3 linked regions of the Homo sapiens genome follow. The protein of the gene in region 1 interacts with the protein of each later gene in a biochemical or structural test. Each region holds a gene or a part of one and is shown on either strand. Other genes may lie near its edges. The genes, in order: NUP98, TNPO1 and NUP88.

What was found.
Region 2: the proteins of NUP98 (region 1) and TNPO1 form a complex in vitro, tested with the Homo sapiens proteins (one study listed by BioGRID).
Region 3: the proteins of NUP98 (region 1) and NUP88 form a complex in vitro, tested with the Homo sapiens proteins (2 studies listed by BioGRID).

What each region holds. Positions count from the first base shown.
Region 1 is NC_000011.10:3,720,958-3,724,612, reverse strand, and holds part of NUP98 (nuclear pore complex protein Nup98-Nup96 isoform 1 precursor), read left to right. Parts: intron 1-1,157; coding exon 1,158-1,456; intron 1,457-3,655. UniProt on the Homo sapiens protein: Plays a role in the nuclear pore complex (NPC) assembly and/or maintenance. NUP98 and NUP96 are involved in the bidirectional transport across the NPC. May anchor NUP153 and TPR to the NPC.
Region 2 is NC_000005.10:72,893,106-72,896,760, forward strand, and holds part of TNPO1 (transportin-1), read left to right. Parts: intron 1-33; coding exon 34-141; intron 142-271; coding exon 272-430; intron 431-510; coding exon 511-598; intron 599-3,352; coding exon 3,353-3,451; intron 3,452-3,655. UniProt on the Homo sapiens protein: Functions in nuclear protein import as nuclear transport receptor. Serves as receptor for nuclear localization signals (NLS) in cargo substrates.
Region 3 is NC_000017.11:5,413,081-5,416,735, reverse strand, and holds part of NUP88 (nuclear pore complex protein Nup88), read left to right. Parts: intron 1-53; coding exon 54-223; intron 224-2,601; coding exon 2,602-2,727; intron 2,728-3,655. UniProt on the Homo sapiens protein: Component of nuclear pore complex.

The sequences.
Region 1 (3,655 bases):
CCTTGTTAGCCAAGGATGGTCTCGAGCTCCTGACCTCAAGTGATCTGCCCGCCTTGGCCTCCTAAAACGTTGGTATTACATGCGTGAGCCACCGTGCCCAGCCTTGTACAGTGATTCTTAATAGTTAGGTATATATTCTTTCATATCAGAAATTTATTTATTTATTTTTTTTTTTTGAGATGGAGTTTTGCTCTTATTACCCAGGCTGGAGTGCAGTGGCACGATCTCGGCCCACTGTATCCTCTGATGTGAATTGTTCAAGCAATTCTCCTGCCTCAGCCTCCTGAGTAGCTGGGATTACAGGCATGCACCTCCACGCCCAGCTAATTTTTTTTGTATTTTTAGTAGAAACAGGGTTTCGCCATGTTGGTCAAGCTGGTCTTGAACTCCTGACCTCAAGCGATCCACCCGCCTCGGCCTCACAAAGTGCTGGGATTACAAGCGTTATCCACCACACCCAGCCGAAATTTCTTTCTTTATAAATATATTTTATTATATAAAGATTATGCACGAATGATATATTCTGTAACCTGCTTATTTCCATTTATTTTATTAGAAATGCCTTTCCATTATCTGTATGAATATATTTGTCTTTTCTTTTTTAATGATTGCATAAGTCATTATTGTGAATGTAAGATAACTTGACCAGTTCCTTGTTAGTGGACATTTAGATTATCCGGTATTCCTGTACTCAAAACAGTGCTTCAGTAAAAATCCTTATATACTGGCACAAGTTCTCAGGGCCTCCTGAGGGCTGTATCACGAAAAAGAAAAAAAAAAAAAGAAACCCTTTGTATAGACACCTTTGTACTCCTGTTTTTTTTTTCTTTTGGATAAAATTCTAGTGTTTTTTATTATTATTATTATTTATAAAGCATTTTTTAACATTTTGTTGATTGTAATCTTAAAAATCTAACATTTTTTTCAGTTTTTAATCTTAAAATTAACCAATTATTTGATTCCATATAGGAGAGTATACAATAGAGATAGTAATTATCTGTTTCACAGTACTGCTGTAGTAAGTATTAAGTGAATTTTTAATACATGGAACTATCCAGAACAGTGCCAGGCACTTAGTAAAGGCTCGGTATTAGTTAGCTATTATCATTGTTATTACTACTACAAGAGGCTAAGGTATTATTTCTTTTCCTTTGCAGATTTAGTTTCCTAAGCAAACCTGTTGATGAGAATCACCAGCAGGATGGAGATGAAGATTCCCTTGTTTCACATTTTTATACTAACCCTATTGCCAAACCTATTCCTCAAACCCCAGAAAGTGCTGGAAATAAACACAGCAACAGCAACAGTGTGGATGATACCATTGTTGCATTAAACATGCGTGCTGCTTTGCGAAATGGGCTGGAAGGAAGCAGTGAAGAAACGTCTTTTCATGATGAGTCACTTCAGGATGACCGAGAAGAAATAGAAAATAATTCTTACCATATGCACCCAGCAGGTCAGGTTCAGATTGGTGCATGTTTAATCTCTTACCAGTCATTCGAGATGACTTGCTTGTTGCAGATATTCAACATATGGAAGTCAGCTGTTTGGCATTTTAAGTATTATTTTATGTGATCCCACATAGGAGAGCTTAATATTTAAACAGTTTTATGCTTTAGTTGATTCAGAGTTCACATACTCTTTGGACCTTAGAGTATGAAAATTGATACATCTTTAATTATCCTGGTGTAGTCTAAAGAACCCAAATTTTATAGCCAAAGAGACTATCCTGATATTTTCCCTGGCTTTGTAAACTCGGATAGATTGCTTATTGTTTTTTGTTTGTTTGTTTGTTTTTTCTTGAGACAGTGTCGCTCTGTCGCCCAGGCTGGAGTGCAGTGTCGCAGTCTTGGCTCACTGCAACCTCAACCTCCAGGGATCAGGACCTCTCATCTCAGCCACCCGAGTAGCTGGCACTACAGGCACATGATACCACACCCCGTTAAGTTTTGCATCTTTTGTTTTGCCATGTTTCCTGGGCTGGTCTCAAAATCCTGGGCTCAAGTGATCCTCCTATCTTGGCCTCCCAAAGTGCTAGGATTACAGGCATGAGCCACCATGCCCAGCCCATTTTGGGTGTTTTGTGGTATTCTTGAAGTGTCTCCAAAATTTATATTTAGTTTTCTTATTGCCATTATATATATATATATATTTGGTTACTTAGTATCATAAGGAAAGAAGTTTATACTTTGACAGTAAGAATCCCAGGTAGCCTGGGTGTGGTGGCTCAGCACTTTGGCAGGCTTAGGTGGGAGGATCGTTTGAACCCAGAAGTTTGAAATCAGTCTGGGCAACATAGCAAGACCTGATATCTACAATAAACTTAAAAGTAATTAGCCAGGTGTGGTGGCATGTACCTGTAGTTGCAGCTACTACGGAAGCTGAGGTGGGAGGATCACTTGAACCCAGGATTCAAGGTTGCAGTGAGCTATGATTATGCCACTGAACTCCAGCCTGGGTTGACAGACCAAGATCCTGTCTCCTAAAAAAAAAAAAAAAAAAAAAAAGAATTCCAGGTGCTTAATCTGTATTTGTGTATGTATCTCTACATGAATTTATTATGCTACTATATATCTTTTTAATAGGAAGTTTTATATTCTAGTTTTTTCATTTACCTTGTTTGCTGCCACCCAATTTAGAGTTCCCTTCCCAAGAAGCAAGTATACAAGTGGGTGTTGCTGGAGGCTGGAGTTTGGTCTGATGTTGGCCTGAAATACTTTTCTCTCAGAGAGCAAGTTAGCCTTATATCTGACTACAAGTAGGACAAGGAGTGAATAGAGCAAGCAAGCACACCAGCGTTCCACTACTTTCCTTGAGTTTTTCAGCGCTCTGCTTTTTTTATTTTGGTATTTTTTTTTCTATTTTAATTTATTCTTTCTTTCTTCTTTTCTTCCTTCCTCCCTCCCTCCCTTCCTTCCGAGTTTCACTCTTGGTTGCCCAGGCTGGAGTGCAGTGGTGTGATCTCAGCTCACTGCATCCTCTGCCTCCCAGGTTCAAGCGATTCTCCTTCCTCAACCTCCCGAGTAGCTGGGATTACAAGCACCCGCCACCATGCCCAGCTAATTTTTGTATTTTTGGTAGATAATGGATTTTTGCCATGTTAGCCAGGCTTGTCTTGGACTCCTGGCCTCAAGTGATTTACTCACCCCGGCCTCCCAAAGTCCTTGGATTACAGGCATGAGCCACCTTGCCTGGCTGGATTTTTCATCTTTCTTTTAGCTCTTTATTTGGGAGTGTAAATTTGAAAAATAAAAGAGGTTTATGCAAAACAGGCAATGAAACAAGAAGAATTGGGTTTGGAGTTTTATATCTACTTCTATTGTTAAATTACAGTATAAGCCAACACAAGTTATTTCCACTGTAGGTTTTGGTATCCTTGTGTGTAAAATAAAATAAAAAGCTGATTAAGCTTTTCTCAGAGTATTTTATGAGATACCTTTTATAGTCCGGGATGTTAATGGGTGTCCTTTGAAAATAATGTTCTGTGGTTAAATCTGGAAAAACACGAGGTTAAGCAGAGTTTAATAGGCTATTTACTGTAAGTTTTAGACTCTTTGATGTATCATATGTATGTTCTTCAAACCTATTTGACCATGAAGCTTTTCACACACACACACACACACACACACACACACACTCACACACCCCTTCTCCT
Region 2 (3,655 bases), on another chromosome or scaffold:
GAAAGTTTAGCATGTGTACTTTATTCTTCCTAGTGCCTATCTTCAGTTGCCACAGCACTGCAGTCTGGATTCCTTCCGTACTGTGAACCTGTGTATCAGCGTTGTGTAAACCTAGTACAGAAGACTCTTGCACAAGCCATGGTAATTTTTTTAAAATGTCTTCCTCTTCTTGACATGGTGGACATTTTTCTAAAGATAGGTATAATGTATACAGACTTTTTAAGTAGTTAATTAAAACCAAACTTACAAAAAACATTGTGTCTAATTTCAGCTAAACAATGCTCAACCAGATCAATATGAAGCTCCAGATAAAGATTTTATGATAGTGGCTCTTGATTTACTGAGTGGCCTGGCTGAAGGACTTGGAGGCAACATTGAACAGCTGGTAGCCCGAAGTAACATCCTGACACTAATGTATCAGTGCATGCAGGTGAGACTTGAAAGGTGAAAATGAATTGAAGCCTGTTTCTCTGTGTCACATTGGGGTTAATTTCTTCTTATTTCTTGTAGGATAAAATGCCAGAAGTTCGACAGAGTTCTTTTGCCCTGTTAGGTGACCTCACAAAAGCTTGCTTTCAGCATGTTAAGCCTTGTATAGGTATGAATATTTTCTACTGCTATGAATATGGTTTTTTAAAGTTAACATTTACATCAGCTTTGTTTTTTTATTATTAAACTGAAATTGCATGGAATCCCAACATTTATAAATGTACACTTTATTGGTTAAAGTAAACTTGCTGTGATTGAAACAGGCAAGATGGCAGGAACCCCTAATATTTCCTTGAGCTTGCCATCATCTCAGCTTTTTAGGTACTCCTGTGACTGGAGGAAAGCTTAGTAATATACTTTAGAGTAAAGGACATGCCCACCAGGGAAGCCTTGGTACCATGGACTAGTTAATAGATTCTTTTTTGAGTAGCCACCTTTTTGGTAGAGGTACACAGAAATAGTAATAATCAGGTTTTCTTCTCTAGCAAACCAGCATACTTTTTCAGATATTGCAGAAAACTTCCAACAAATGTCACTTTAACTGAGACTGGGCCTGGGGGCTCACACCTGTAATGCCAGCACTTTGGGAAGCCAAGGCAGGCAGATCACTTGAGGTCAGGAGTGCGAGATTCGAGACTAGCATAGCATTTGTCTTGGCCTTCTGTGACAATGATAAGAAATTCCTTGAATGTTGTACCCGGAATTGTTCTTAAACCTATGGGTTATAAATGAGTTATGGGATTTTTTTCCCCCTTTTCTGCATCTCAGCATGTTGGGTAACAATTATTTTAATACAGCCGGGCACGGCGGCTCAGACCTGTAATGCCAGCACTTTGGAAGGCCAAGGCGGGCAGGTCACGAAGTCAGGAGATCAAGACCATCCTGGCTAACACGGTGAAACCCCGCTTCTACTAAAAATACAAAAACTTAGCCAGGCGTGGTGGCTTGTGCCTGTAGTTCTAGCTACTTGGGAAACTGAGGCAGGAAAATCGCTTGAACCCGGGAGGCAGAGTCTGCAGTGAGCTGATACTGTACCACTACACTCCAGCCTGGGCAACAGAGCAAGACTCCGTCTCAAAAAAAATTATTTTAATACTTCATTTAAACCTTAATTTAAAATATTAATTGAATGTTTTGTCATCTGATATAATTGTGCTTTTGGATAACCATTTCTCAAAAAACTAACATAATTAACATTAATTATGATATATTAAGAACCATCAAGTTTAAACCTAACAGTGTAATGAATTCTTATGGGAAGCTTATCATTCTCATATTTACCACCTAATTTAGTTTTTTAGTTGAAACTTATATGAAAGGATTTAATTTTTTTATTATAAAGTGTTTAAGACGTACAAAAGTAGAAAAAATGTAACAAACCTCCTATCACCCAGCTTCAACTGTCCAGTCCTGTTTCCTATATACTGTTGTCAGTGGTGAGACACATAGATCTCAGATATTTTGGAGCAAATCTCAAACACAGCATTTGAAGTCTTAATATTTTAGTACATACTATACTATCTCTTCTTACAATTGTTTTTTGTTAAAGAAACCATGTTTTTTATTCTAAAGAGTTTCCTTTACTGTGGATTTTACTGATTGCATCTTTGTTGTCTTTAACATGTTCCTCTGTCCGTTGTATTTACTGTAAATTGTTTGGATACAGAGACTGAGGTTTAATGAGATTTACGTTGTTTTGTTTTTAAGACTTTATAGATGGTATTGTGTACTTAGTGTACATAGTGTCTAGTTGTCCCTCCTTTTTTTTTTTTTAATGTTACCAATCTTGATGATTGTCTCAATTAGTGGTTCTCAACTAGGGGCAATTTTGCCATTCGGGGAACATTTGCCAGTGTCTGGAGACATTTTGTTTGATGCTGGAGAGGTGCCATTGATGTCTAGTGGGTAGAAGCAAAGGATGTTGCTAAACATCTTATAATACAGGAGACAGCTCCCCTTCCCCCCAACAAAAAAATGATCTGGCCCAAACTGTCAATATTGCTGAGATCAAGAAACCCTGGCTTACATCTCCTGATTTATTAGGAGTTTAAAAAATTATGATATTCTAATTCTTCATTTAATAATGAAGATACTTATATAGGGAGACATTTCCCATATCAATAAATTACTATCCTGAGGTAAAATCATATAGCAGAGGCAAGATAAATACTTGATTCTTTTTTTTATTTACCAATTTTCAAAATAATGAATTGATTCCTATCATCCTCCAAAGGTATCTTTGATGTTTCAGAGTTTTGTTTTTGTTTGATTGTTTTTAGTGCTAGTGTGACTTCATGATGTTCAAGCTGTTGTACTGCTTGCAGTGAGAACTTAAGTTGGCTCCCGAGTCCTTTCATTATGACAAGATAGTCCACTTATTTTGCACATTTCCTGCCTTTGCCTGTAATGTGACGTTTTCTGAGAGTCCATTTTTTTTTAGTGGAAAATGTTATTCAGAGACCACAATCAGAGCACAAGAGTGAAAATTGCTTTAAAAGCCAAAATCATTGATTTTTTTTTTTTAGTCTAATTACAAGAGATTACTCTGACCAACTCTTTTTAGTGGTATGTAAAATATACCCAAACTTGTATTTCCTGTTCCACATTATTTGAAAGTTCATTGGCCAGATACTGTTTTCTTCAGTTTCTTAAGATAAACATTACCAACTCCTTTAAAAAATATTTTTAAATACAGTTGCCTAGTTTATTTCCACCAATTTTAAAATTGATGTTGCAGTAATTTTTTTAATGGTGAAACTTGTTATTTCTTGCTTAGATTTCTGTTTCCACCTAGTAGATTTCCTTTAAAGTACAATATACTGCTATTGAAAAGTTTACTACATAGTTTAAATTTTTTTTCTAGCTGATTTCATGCCAATATTGGGAACCAACCTAAATCCAGAATTCATTTCAGTCTGCAACAATGCCACATGGGCAATTGGAGAAATCTCCATTCAAATGGGTAAGATGTTTTTCCCTATTTAAAAGCATAAGGCCTGGCGCGGTGGCTCACGCCTGTAATCCCAGCACTTCGGGAGGCTGAGGCGGGCAGATCACCTGAGGTCAGGAGTTTGAGACCAGCCTGGTTGACATGGTGAAACCCCGTCTCTACTAAAAATACAAAAATTAGCTGGCGTGGTAGCGGGTGCCTATAATCCCAACTATT
Region 3 (3,655 bases), on another chromosome or scaffold:
ACCTATATTTAAATTAAAATTAACTATGTTGACTGGTTTGCTCTAATTTTCAGAGATTGCTTTGCATAAATCCACCCCTGTTTGAAATCTATCAAGTCTTGTTAAGCCCAACACAACATCATGTAGCACTTATAGGAATAAAAGGACTTATGGTATTAGAATTACCTAAAAGATGGGGGAAGAATTCTGAATTTGAAGGTGGAAAATCAACAGTGAATTGTAGGTAAGTTGTATACTATTTATCTGTATAATTTATTATATATACAGAAAATTGTTCAAGACTAGTGGTTCTTAAGCATGTTTAGTATACTACTCTTAAAACATTAAAACACTCCTCGTGGTCTGCAGACTGGCTTCTGTGTTATCAATGTTCATAGTATATGTGTAATTGATTGTACTTTATTCTGCCTGAAGTACCACGTTGCTGTCTCATTTGAGGCTAGGCCATTCTTTCGATTAGGTAGAAGTAAGATTTTGTAAAACCAGTTATCTGTCAGCCAGAAGTTTGCCAGAAGTGTAAGTATTTTATGTGTGTGTGTGTGTGTGTATGTGTGTATATATATATATACTTTTTTTTTTTTTTTTTTTTTTGAGATGGAGTCTTGCTCTGTCACCCAGGCTGGAGTGCAGTGGCACAATCTCGGCTCACTGCAAGCTCCGCCTCCTGGATTCAAGCGATTCTTCTGCCTCAGCCTCCCGAGTAACTGGGATTACAGGCAAGCGCTACCATGCCCAGCTAATTTTTGTATTTTTAGTAGAGACGGGGTTTCACCATGTTGACCAAGCTGGTCTTGAACTCCTGACCTCAAGTGATCCACCCACCTTAGCCTCCCAAAGTGCCGGGGTTATAGGTGTGAGCCACCGCACCTGGCCTATTTTTATATAATTTCTTTTTCAACAAATCCAGAAAAGTGAATCTGAAAGATCTACTGAAAAGAGTACAGATGCTTTTCAACTTACGATTGGGTTATGTCCCGATAAACCCAGTGTAAGTTGAAAATGGATTTATTGCTGACAACACAGCAGAGGATCCCCGATTTAGGATGGTTCAACGTAGGATTTTTCAACATTATGATGGGTAACCCCATCATAAGTCGTAAGGAGCTCCTCAGTTTATGTTGGCTTATGTACTGGTAAACCCATTGTAAAGTTGGGGATCATCTGTATAAGGTAGAAACTGCTTTTAGCTCCGCAACTTATAAGTTGAGTCCCCTTAAACTGTTTACCTTCTAAATCTGTTTCCTCATTTTAAAAATAGGATTGATAATATCTGCCCTTGTAATTTCCTTACAGGGTTAGTAAAAAGATCAAATGAGATACTATATCTGAAAACACTTGTACTGTATAAATATGTATCAATCCTAAGTCAAACCATCCTAAAATGTATATATACGTATGAAATATGCTATAATTTGGAGCCAGGCACGATGGCTCACACCTGTAATCCCAGCACTTTGGGAGGCCGAGGCAGGTGGATCACCTGAGCTCAGGAGCTTGAGACCACCCTGGGCAACATGGTGAAACCTCATTTCTACTAAAATACAAAAAATAAGTGGGGTGTGGTGGCACACGCCTGTAGTCCCAGCTACTCAGGAGGTTAAGGCACAAGTATTGATTAAATCCAGGAGGCGGAGGTTGCAGTGAGCAAAGATCACGCCACTGCACTCCAGCTTGGGCCACAGAGTGAGACTTCATCTCAAATAAATAAACAAATAAAATTTAAATAAATAATTTAAATTATTAAAATAAATAAATTATTTATTTATTTTGAGACAGAGTCTGGCTCTGTAGCCCAAGCTGGAGTGCAGTGGCGTGATCTCAGCTCACTGCAACCTCCTCAGCCCGGGCTGGAGTGCAGTGGCACAAGCTCAGCTCACTGCAGCCTCCACCTCCTGGGTTCCAGCGATTCTTCTGCCTCAGCCTCACGGGTAACGGGTTACAGGCATGTGCCACCACACTTGCCTAATTCTTGTATTTTTAGTGGAGACGGGGTTTTACCATGTTGGCCAGGCTGGTCTCAAACTCCTGACCTCAGGTGATCCACCTGCCTTGGCCTCCCAAAGTGCTAAGATAGGCGTGAGCCATTGCGCCCAGCCAGTGTGCTATAATTTAGAAGATATTTTTATTTCAATTCTTTGATATTGATTGAATAGATGCCTTGAATGTCCTCTCAGCATGATTTCAGGGAAATAAATCTGAAGGAAAGAGAATCAAAGAGTGTTAAAATAGAAATTTCTTCAGGGCCTGGCGTGGTGGCTCATGCCTGTAATCCCAGCACTTTGCGAGGCCGAGGTGGGCAGATCACCTGAGGTCGGGAGTTTGAGACCAGCCTGACCAACATGGAGAAACCCCCTCTCTACTGAAAATACAAAGTTCGCTGGGCGAGGTGGCAGGTGCCTGTAATCCCAGCTACTTGAAAGACTGAGGCAGGAGAATCACTTGAACCTGGGAGGCGGAGGTTGCAGTGAGCCGAGATTGTGCCGTTACACTCCAGCCTGGGCAACAAGAGAGAAACTCCATCTGCAAAAAAAAGAAGTTCCTTTAGAAGATTTTCATCCAAGTTGTACAAAATGTTTTGGAAAATTATTATCTTTATTTTAGTACCACTCCAGTTGCGGAGAGATTTTTCACCAGTTCCACCTCTCTGACTCTAAAGCATGCTGCATGGTATCCAAGTGAAATCCTGGATCCCCACGTAGTGCTGTTAACATCAGACAACGTAATCAGGTAAATTTTATTTCTCTCTCTTGAAGCCTTGCGAGTGGGAAAGCTCTGTTTCTGTTTGCCAATTAACAGCTCAACATAGAACGAAGTGAGTCATTGAATGAGTCAGTGCTTTTATTGGATGGCTGTTGTAACCCATTCTCAATCATAAGAATTGCCTAACTGCTCTAACTTACCACTATTCCTTCTCAACTAGTCTTCCTGCCTCCAGGTATCTCCTCTCCTAATCTGACACCTTAGAATAATCTTTCCAAAACTCTTTCATCATTGTCACCCTTTTGGTAATAATGTAGCATAAAGGAAAGAGAATGTAAGTGTAAATTTAGAGATTTGAATTATTGTCCCACCTCCTTTTCTGTTATCTTTGAGATCTTGAGCTTTTTAGGGGTTGGGGGGCTCAGTTTCCAATCTTTTAAATTGAGCAGGTTTGATTCAATAGTTTCTAACGCCCCTTCCAAGCTTTGCACTCTATGATTAAATGCCCTAATGCTACGTAGATTTCTACTCTATTATCAGCTAACTTTCTGGATCGGCCTTATGTAAAAAGTTATTGGGGGGACTCAGCAGAGGTACAGATACCTTCAGTTTTATTTTTCGTAATCACTGCTTTTAACTGTGCTCTACTAAATCTTCCTTCACTGCTGAATGACTCACCCCTTAATGATGTCTTATACAGATCCCCATAGCTTTCTCGTTACTTCTAGTTATGAAAACAGTGTGTCCAGTTTAAAACTCATCTTGGCTGGTTGCAGTGGCTCACACCTGTAATCCCAGCACTTTGGGAGGCCGAGGTGGGAGGATCATTTGAGCCCCTGAGTTCGAGACCAATGTGGGCAATACAGTGAGATCCTGTCTCTGCAAAAAAAATTAGCTGGGCATAATGGCATGTGCCGGTAGTCCCAGCTACTCAGGAGACTGAGGTAGGAAGATT